Regions from separate parts of the Homo sapiens genome. Here region 2 is linked to region 1. Evidence: fine-mapped expression QTL. Tissue or cell type: prefrontal cortex. Region 1 holds a variant in brackets; the other region holds the start of a gene. All regions are shown on one strand. Distances are from middle to middle.

Region 1 (5,151 bases):
GTTTTAACCCACTCTTGGGAGCTTAAGAGGCTCCCCTGTTTTCAGGAGTACATGATTACTGTGAGGTACTAGACCTTGAAGTCCACGTAGGTCTTCTATATTGCTTTCCTCATGGTGTTGGCTTGCAAAGAAGCAGTGTAGTGGCACAAATTAATAAGCTTTGCAATTTCAGGGGCAGAATGGGCGTTACCATGCTTGTCTTGCTGAAAGGGAGTAACCTACTCTAATTTTGTTAGACACGGCTGGATACAACCAGTCTTTTTTTTTCTGTCAACTCTCCTTGCATGGCAGGGAGGACCTTTTTATTGCCACCCAAAGTCCTTGTTGATAGGGTCGGCTCCAGGATTTCTATATTTTGTATAGAATCCTATACAAAATTTCTATATTTTGTATAGGTATAGCAATCAGCTGGGGAGGAGACAAGCACTGTTCTTTGTTAATCTTTTGTTTTGGGTTTAGGGCTACATGTGTAGGTTTGTTATTACAGGCAAACTCGTGTCACAGGGGTTGCTATACAGACCATTTCATCACCTAGGTGCTCAGCATAGTGCCCAATAGTTATTTTTCCTGATCCTCTCTCTCCTCCCATCCTCCTCCCTCAAGTAGGCTCTGGTGTGTGTTGTTCCCCTCTTTGTGATCATGGGTTCTCATTATTTAGCTCCCACTTGTAAATGAGAACATGCGGTATTTGATTTTCCTTTTTTTTTTTTGAGATGGAGTCTCACTCTTTCACCCAGGATGGAGTGCAATGGCACGATCTTGGCTTTCTGCAGGCTCCACCTCCTGGGTTCAAGCAATTCTCCTGCCTCAGCCTCCTGAGTAGCTGGGATTACAGGCACGCGCTGCCACACCCGGCTAATTTTTGTATTTTTTAGTAGAGACGGGGTTTCAATATGTTGGCCAGGCTGGTCTGGAACTCCTGAACTCAAGTGATCTGCCCGCCTCAGCCTCCCAAAGTGCTGGGATTACAGGCATGAGCCACTGCACCTGGCCTTTTCTTAAAGCTGAATTTTCGTGGCAAGCTCGCTCTTCTTACTTGATGTGCATGTTCCTGATCAACCTAAAGAGTAAAGTACTTTTTGATGATGCTTTTCTTCATCCTTTAGATAAGAATGAGAGAGCAACAACTGCCTATATTAAAGGAAAATACTATTGTTTTTATCGGGACCAAGCTTGAGGAGCCTGGAGGAAGTAATGGGAGTAGGCTAACATCCCTTCTCCCTAGTTTCCTGAGACCAATGCTGCTTTTTGGTTGGGTGATCCTGTAAACTAACAGCAGACCGCCTGCAAATTCAGGCTCATGATTGCTTCTTCACACTTGAGGGGTGTTGTACAGTTTTCCCTTGTATACAGGAGAACTTCCTGTCACACCAGCCAGCATTTTCTAGGTACTAAATGCAGGCACTGCATTTGCCTTGCCTTCTGAACACTTCTGCATGCATGCTCTCTCACTCTTGTACCTGTACACAGTGCCATGCAGCTCCCCTGTCCAGAAGCTATGGGTGGTGGAAGGTGGCCATGCTGGGGTCTCAGCCCCACACCCTTCATCCTGGGGTTGAAGCCTTCTCAGGGACTGGCCTCAGTACATCTCCAATGCCAGTCTCTGGCTTGCTGTCTGTTGGATTTCCCAGCACCACTGCTCTCCTTTCTGCAGTGGTTCAGCAATCCCTGTGTTTTCTTCCACATCCTCCACTGACAGGAGCAGTCAAACCATCCCATGTGTTGTCAGGAAACACAATGCAGGTGACCAAATCACAATTCAGCATAGTCCAAGGATGGCCTGCTGTGATGGAGGTTGTCAAAAAGCAGTACTCGAGGTCTGCTATTCTCAAACCACAACCTCACATTAGAATTCCAGACAATGAGTTTCCCACAATGGCTGGGAATAAAATGTCCTTTCACTGTGGCACCCCAGCCACCTTTTGGCAATGCTGCCTTCATCATGGTGGGGTTTCCTCATAGCTGGGCCACTGCCAGAGGAAGATGTTTCCTTGGTGATGCTGGCTGGGTCTCCGTGGCAGAGACTTGACTACCATGACTTTCTTCTATCTCTTTAGGCTGCTGTTAAGGCAGCTGGGCTAGATTGGAGATCAGGATCAGACAGATAAAATGTCCATCATGAGCATCTGTCATGGTCTACAATAAATTGAGTTTC[C/A]TTTACCAAAAAAGGTCTCCCAGCTCATATGTCTACTAGGCAGGACACCAGTTGCAGCATGGTTTGACTTTTCATTTCAATCGTAAGTCCCATCCTCACCTCTCATGGAGGATGTGGAAGAGAATGAGCCGATGCTTATGACACTGCCAGAAGGACAATGATGACAGAATCTGTGAATGAAAGGGCCAGAAATACAGCATTATGAAACAGTGGCCCTGCCACTCCCTGCTGGATACCTTTAGATTTGAATAACTTCAAATCAAATTCATTAAATCAGATTTATTTAAATTGAATTCATTCAGCATGTGAGTTTGGGCACTTCCCTGAGTGTTAATGAGTCTGTATCAAAAGTAGTAAATCTACTTGTATCCAGGTCTAAAGAAAATCTAACTGTTATTCATTCCTCCCACATATATTTGTGGAGCAGCTAATAATAACATGTTAACAGTAGATACATTTATTGAGGCTCTACCATGTACTAAGCTGTGCGTGTCTGTGTGTGTGTGTGTGTGTGTGTGTATGAGAGCCATATATATATATATATATATGAGGGAATATATATTCTTTCATATATACATATATATTTTTATCTTTCTTAACATATGTAAAATCTTTTCTGTACGTATAATCTCTAAGCCTCACCAACTCTACAATATTATTGATATTGATATTATCTCTACTTTAGATACAGGAAAATTTAGGTTCAGTTATGTTAAGCACCTTGCCCAAGGTTTTTCTACTGATTCACAACCTCACGTTCTTTTCTTTGTTCTATGCCAGGTCACGAGTCAGACACAGGGTGAGCAGGAATCAGTGGCCTAGCTTTCACTCACAGGGGCCTGCAGTTTGGTTATTACCAAGCCTCCCAAAAGGACCTGATACGTTGGTTTTTGGATCACATGGTGGCTGCAGATGTGCTCAGTGGGGTGTCCAGGAGAGGCTGGGTTTAAGACAGTTCCCACATGCTGGCTGTAGCATTTGGGGCAGGACACTTAATAGCTTTGACTCTGTTTTCTCATGTTTGAACTGGGATTACACCTTCCTGGTGGGTTTGCTGAGAAGATGGGAAGATGTCCATATCTTCCTATATGTATATCTAAGGTGCCCATCACATGGCTAGAGCTTAATAAGGGATAGCTGGCCTTATGAACTTCTTTTGAGCCTACGCATTCATAGTTGGGTCACGTAAGCTCTATCTAGGTTTCTAAATCCCATGTAGAATCTTCCCTTTCTCTAATCTAAATGTAACATCTTTCAGGAGGAGCTAAATTCATATTGTACCCGAGCAGCTATAAACGATCACTCTGTCACTGGAGGAAAACGCTGTGCCCACATAGAGATGCCACCAAGAAACCGGCCTTTTTAAGCTGTTGACTTTTTCTTGGCTTGTTTTTATAGGTGTTGGTGGAAATAACCCAGATGAAGAAAAGAATAGCACAGCCAATTCTGGGGTCTCCTCTACAGACATCCTGAGCTTCGGGTACCAGGGAAGTTTGTTGTCACACACACAAGACCAGGACAGAAATACTGAAGAACTAGACATGGCTGGGGTGCAGAGCTTAGTGCCCAGGCTGAGACATCAGCTTTCCTTTCTGCCGTTAAAGGTAATCATCCCTTGGTTTACTTTCTAGATCTGGATGAAAGAGAACAGACTGTGAAGCCCAACAGCCTGGCCCCTAGGCCCTTCCTGTTCTCTGTTTTCCATGTCAGGTGGATGGAAGTTACTTAGCCCCTTTGAGCCACAGCTTCCTCATTTGCATACAGAAGCAAATGCCTGCATGGCATGGTTGTTGAGAAAAACGCATAGAAGAAGGCAGAGTTCTAGGACAGTGTCTGGGCACAGGCTCAGTGTGGGTGCCTCTGGAGTCTTTAGTCACTAATTATAATTGTTGTGATAATAGCACCATGAGGAAATTGATTGCTGCCAATGGCAAGGCGTGGGCAACCAGGCACCTCCTATTCTTGTCCTTGAATTGGTCCTCAAGCTGGGAACTCAGTGGCTTTGCTCTTGACCATACCCCATGGAGGAAGAAGATGGGATCTGGAGTAGGTGTATGGAGGGCTGTGTGCTTCAGTCCCAGCTCTGCTGTCCTCTGCCGTCTCTTTGGATTCCCAGTGGTGTTGTCTTCTCAGGCCCCGCCAGACCCATGCCCCAGCCTCTCCATTCTGCTCTGGGCCCTGCACAGCTGGTGCTCATGGACTGAGTCACCTTGCTGTGTTCTGCTTGGTTCTGCCCAGTCGAAGCCTCAGCAGGAGCCCGCAGTTGTGGGATGAGTGAGGACAGGGTGGCAGTGCTGGAGTCTCAGTTGCACACCCTTCATTCCACTCTTTCCCTGTGCTGACACAGGTTGCCTGTGCCCCTCTACAAAGAGCACAGCTCCTATCAGGGTCCATCGACCACTCCCTTCTCTCGCCCTTCAGGCTCAGGGGTGGTCACAGCACCCAGTGTTTCCAGCCCCAGGTGCTGAACTGATATTACTGGTTTCTCCAAAGGCTGGCAAGACCTTTGAAAACAGGTCTCCCACGACCTATCCTCCCTTACTCAGGCTGAGTGTATGCCCTTCTCATTCTTGCTGGGACAACTTGCTGGTTGAAACAGGCAGGTTATTGCACCTCTTTCAACCTCGTTTCTCTTTTTATGATGGAGATAATGATGTCTGTCCACAGCCGTGGAAACTAAGGTACTATGCCCAGTGTCGGGGATAAAACCCGTATCTTTCTTCTACTCATCTTAGCTTCATCAGCTGGGACCCCTGTAACTAAAGACAGATTAATGAGAGAAAAGCATCCACGTGTATTTACTATAAGTTTTATGTGACATGTGAGCCTTCTTATGGAAATGACCTGAAGAAACAGTTCTCCCTGAGTATATTTGATGAAGAATGGAGAGTCATGGAGAAATGAGATAAGACAAAAAGCAGGAGTATGTAAGGTGGGAGGAACTCAGCAAGGCCTGCTTGTTCAGATTCCTCTCTCAGTCCCTGTGTCTTCCCACA
Region 2 (5,151 bases), 92 kb before region 1:
TCTGGGAGAAAGGTTGCGTGGTCAGCCTGAAAAAATTACTAAATAAAAATTACCTGGACACTTGCTGAAAATACAGATGCTCTGGCTCGGGCCCAGAGATTCAGGTTCAGCAGATTCAGGGTGGTGCCTGGGAATCTGCATTTTATCGTCTTCAAGGCTGAATCTGATGAGAAGACAAGTTTGGAAAAAACAGTAAAAGATTGTTGCAGATATTGTGAAATGTTTTGCTAGCTAGCAGGGAATGTCAATATAGATAGCTTTAAGCAGAAAAAAATGTAAAACATTGTGTTTTTTAGTTTTTTTCAAGTAATATAACATAAGGTTATAGGGGGAAAATACCAAAATGAACAATAATTTTCCTGACTAAATAATGAGCCAAAACTCTTTCCCCTAGCAACCACTATTAAGTTGCTTGTGATTCCTTCCAGAACCACAAGAATATGTCTACATAATATTCTAATATACTACAGTGTATAAAGAATATGTATACATAAATATACGTAAATATACCTGGTCTTTATGTACCTATTTGTAATAAAAGGAAACATACTAGGCTATTCCATACCTTTTGTCACTTAAAGAATTTTCTAGGCAATTGTTATATGCCAGCACACACAGATCTACTTCCTTCCTTTACACAGCTGCATAGCTGGTTTTCTACTGTGTGTGAACTACAATAATCACTGTTGATGGGCACTTCAGTGGCTTTCAGTTTTCTGCTACTACCAAAATACACTGCAAAGAGCATCCTTTCTCAGATGCTTTGGTGAACTTTTGCAAGAATGTCCATGGGGTTACTTCTTAGCAGCTGGGTTTACAAAGGATATGTACATTTACAAATTTGATGAATATTACCAAATTCCCTGCAGAGAAGTTGCACTTATCTGTAATCTCACTATTGGCATATGAGAGTACTCATTCTCCATGCCCTCACCAGCACTGAGTTTCATCAGATTTTTTTTTCGAGACAGAGTCTCGCTCTGTCACCCAGGCTGGAGTGCAGTGGCCCGATCTTGGCTCACTGCAAGCTCCGCCTCCCAGGTTCACGCCATTCTTCTGCCTCAGCCTCCGGAGTAGCTGGGACTACAGGCACCCGCCTCCAGGCCCAGCTAATTTTTTGTATTTTTAGTAGAGACGGGGTTTTGCCATGTTAGCCAGGATGGTCTCGATCTCCTGACCTCGTGATCTGCCCGCCTTGGCCTCCCAAAGTGCTGGGATTACAGGCATGAGCCACTGTGCCCGGCCTCAAATTTTAGTATTTTATTCTGTAGTCAGGCAAAAACTCATGTTTTCTTTTTAAATAAATACGTCTCAGTTTTGACACTGCTATTGATTTAAAGGGCTTGAGAGATCTGTTCTTTTGCCCCTTCTACTACAGAGCTATGATCTACTTCTTGCTGTTCCCCATCTCTGCTGGTTCCTTTCTGAATCCAAGCACCAGAAAGAGTAAGAATTCCTTTCCCCCTTTCTCTAACCACATTTTTCTTGCTTTCTCACAGACAGATCCAGGTTATCATTTCCTCCTGCTGCTTTCACATGGTTCCCTGTCCTGTTGGTTGCAGGTCCAATGTCTGACACTATGAAAGGGCATGGAGGACTCTTGAGTTGATGACACTAAGCCTCTGCTCTGGGGCTGCCCCCAGTTCCTTGCAGAGCTCTTTCTTTTGATTGGGCCAGGAGATAAAGAGACATCAGCGTAAAAGCCCTGCTGAGCAGCAATCCCATTGCCTTCAGTGGCACCTAATCCACTTGAGCTCTTCCTGGCTCTCTCACGGGTCACTGGCTTTGAGGACGCAGGCTGCTGGGGTGGCAGTGCCTGCTAACAGGCCAGAGACTGCGCAGGACCCAGGGAATGAGAGTGGTGGCAGGAAAGGGAAGGGGCCTTGTTGACTCACTCGCTGGGCAGCAAGTGCTTAGTGACAAGCAGTAAACAAAGACAGCGGCAACAGTGCTGGTGGCAGGGAGCTCCGCGGACAGACTTGCAAGAGACCCCTGCTCCTTGTTGGAAAGTTGTCCCATGATGAAGGCCTAGACCTGGTCACGGAGACTTTTGGATGCAGCCTTTAACGAAGGACGCAGGTATTCCTTGGCATCATTCAGTTTTCTCCTATAAATCTGGTCAGGGAAAGGGCAAACTTCTTACTGGGTCTAGGTATCCGGAATAAGAAGAACACAGCTGGGCAAGGACCTGTGTCAGTGCCCTTTGTGGTATTATTTGGAGTATTATTTGTTCCAGGCCATTGGCTAAGCCTGATAGACATTGTATTTGTTTTTTAGCAATAAAGAATGGGCTCAGAAGAGAAAACATGGACTTTAGAATCAGACCACCCCTTGTTTGAATCACTGCTTTGCTATTCAGCATCTGTGCAAATTCAAATGACTCTTTTAACTTTCCTAAGACTCGTTTTTCTTACCTGTAAAATGGGGATAATAATGCCCCATGCGTTACGATGTTGCTGAGGATTCATGGGGTGACACGCGTAAGGCACTTAGAACATACTTGGAGCATTTGAGTAGCCCAGTAAATCATGGCTGTCACTATCTTTCAGAAGCAAGTGTTTTGGTTATTGCTTAAAGAGTATCAGTGGTTTAAAGTAAGAAGACTCAGGGTATGCCTAGCTGACTTCCAGAAAACAATGGAAAAGAAATGATTCACCTGGCTTTATTTGTATGCTTAAAGGAAAGAAAAAACTCAGTTGAGGTTTTCAACAGTGTAAACAACTTTTTTTTTTTTTTAAAGCAACAATTGAGTTCAGAGATGAGTCGTGTCTATTTCTCCTGGCTAAATCCTGTGATTTGCTATAGGCTGTAGCTGAAACCAATTAAGTAGTTCATTAATTCAACGAGAACTTACTTGGTATCTCCTGGGGCCACATGCCAAATGCTGGGGATGTCTCCCCCAGCCCAGAGGATCTTCCAGGTTGTAGGACAGTGGGGGTCGGGGGGCAGAATGCTGGACCTGCATGAAAACTGGCGGTGATAGCAAGTGCCGAAATGGAGGTGGCACGGGCTCCTGGGAGAGGTGTTGCTTGAGCATGGCTTTAATGCTAAGCGAACACTAGCAGGAGTTGGGAGCAGGGGGATTGGAAAAGGCATCCCAAGCAGAGAAAAGCACATGCAAAGGCCCAGTGGCATGAATAAGTAAAGCATGCTCTGGGAACAGCAGGCAGTTTGGCCTAACTTTAGTAAAGTGGGAACAGGGGAATCTGATAAGAAAGGAGGCTGCAGAGGTGAACAGGGGAGAGCAAGGAAGGCCTTCTATGGCCCAGAGTTCACTCAGAAGGTCCCAGATAGGCACTGGTAGTTTTAATGAAGGATGTGTCGTGTCTGCATTTAATATTAAGAAGATTAATCTAGTAGCAATATGGGTGTGGGATTGGAGAGGATGAAACCTGGAATGATGACAGATGGCCTAACCTAAGAAAACAACAGTGGAATGTAGAGAAGGGGAGGTCTCCAAGCTGGTGCTGCCAGCACTGTGAGCAAAAACAAATACATATGCATCTAATAAGTTCATTATAAATTTTACTGATATGAAGGATGTATATTGCACAATTTACAAGTAATAAAATATAAAATACTCTTTATTACAAATTCTATATAGCCATTTGATTCTCACAGCATGCATTTGTTGATTTTTGCTGAACTCTTATACCCTTGGTCAGCCTGTTTGCAATTGACCACTGAATGTAGTTCCAATATGAATGTTGGTTGATATTTTTGTTTACATTGACAAGTAAGAAGAAAGTGAAACAATGAAGATGATTGTCTTAACTTCACTCATCTGTCAATGACATGAGTGACTGCTGGATCAGATCATAGTTTTTGAATTTGGAAGAGTGTTTTCCCAATTTTTGTGTTATTCACAATGTAACAACTATGGACGCGACACACTTTTAGGTTTAATCTGCATGAACATTTTCTCCATCACTTTCTTAGTTTTCTTAGGGAATGAAAAAACAGCAAACCAAGCCCTAATTTGTAGCTTTTGCCAATTTTTGTGGTATAAATACTACCACCATGGCCAATCACAAGCTCCCAATGTGATATCGCTGAACACAAAGGTGGAAGGGCTGTGCACCAGCACACCATTACACAGTATTTCCATCATAGAAATGTATTTCATTTAAATAAGTTCCAAAGCACAGACAACAGTAAAATGCAGTAAAATAATTTGGAAATGGTGAGTTTCAACATATTGTTAATATAACTTATTTAATTGGAGATTTTTATAATACTTTTTGGTAATGGCTGTGTTTAATGACCAGCTTACAAAATTTCTGGAAATTTAACAATTGGCTCTCACAGGCCAGTAGGAGCCTTCTTCAGCATATCACAGAATCCAAGAAAGGTTTAAGGAGCAGAATACAGAGTGGTGAGAAAATGACTCATGGGTGCAAATGAAGGGGGCACGAAGGAAGAATTAGGAAGAATACTTCCTTCTCTCTGGGGATGAAGCTGTCACTCACCAAAATGTTGGACTTATTAAAAAGAACACCATGAATAGATGACTATGAATTCAACTGCTCAGGAATAGCAAGGGCTGCGGTGTGCAGCCCAGGACAATGCTACCTGCAGCTCCATTAGTGAAGTCATTTCTGGTCTGAAACCCCAGTTTTGCTGGCTTGTCTCTAGCCTATTCCCTGCCCTCTCCATATACTCAGGATTCATAATATGAATAGCTAGGATTTATTGAAAAACTGCCATATGCCAGACACAATAACTCATGGTATAAACGAGTAAAGAGAGGAAGTAACTTGCCCACGGTGAGGTGGGATCAATCCAGCTCTGACCTCGGAGCCTGCTCTTCCAGCCACTATGCTTTTCTATTCTCATTCCCCTCCTGAATTGTATTCACCCTGAGATATCAGTGTTTTTAGCTGCTTTCCTGGCAGAAGTCTGCTTTCGAGGCTGATTCCTATTCCTCAGGCTTCCTTTTACTGGTCGCTGGCAGCTCTACTGTTAACTGCCCTCCCTTTTTTTTTCTTGCCTTGGCTGTAAGCCTCCTTATTCCTGTATTTGCTTGAGCTATCATAGCCCAACATTGTTGGAAATAGAGTAGGTAGTGAAGGGAGGCAGGAAGGAGATGTGTAGGATGGTGCACAGGAACCAGTTCCAGGAGGGCTGGTGCCAGGCAGGAGGCAGATCAAG

Alleles and levels. Positions count from the first base shown, and alleles are read on the strand shown. Sizes are in standard deviations (SD) of each study's normalised expression.
As copies of A replace C in region 1, the expression in prefrontal cortex of the gene that starts at base 1,926 in region 2 goes down (moderate effect, 0.67 SD a copy in GTEx).

Evidence for each region. PIP is the estimated chance that this variant, and not a neighbour inherited with it, causes the effect.
Region 2: it holds the start of FRMPD2, and the variant in region 1 is fine-mapped to the expression of FRMPD2 in prefrontal cortex (GTEx, PIP above 0.99).

What each region holds. Positions count from the first base shown.
Region 1 is chr10:48,179,411-48,184,561 of GRCh38, reverse strand. FRMPD2 (FERM and PDZ domain containing 2) reads left to right here. Exons shown (of 29, transcript NM_001018071.4): 21 at 3,554-3,759. Among named protein-coding and RNA genes, the nearest start is that of FRMPD2, 93 kb to the left of the region's middle. The variant C/A (reference allele first, on the strand shown) is at 2,156.
Region 2 is chr10:48,271,471-48,276,621 of GRCh38, reverse strand. FRMPD2 (FERM and PDZ domain containing 2) reads left to right here and starts at 1,926. Exons shown (of 29, transcript NM_001018071.4): 1 at 1,926-2,079. The coding sequence starts at 2,055.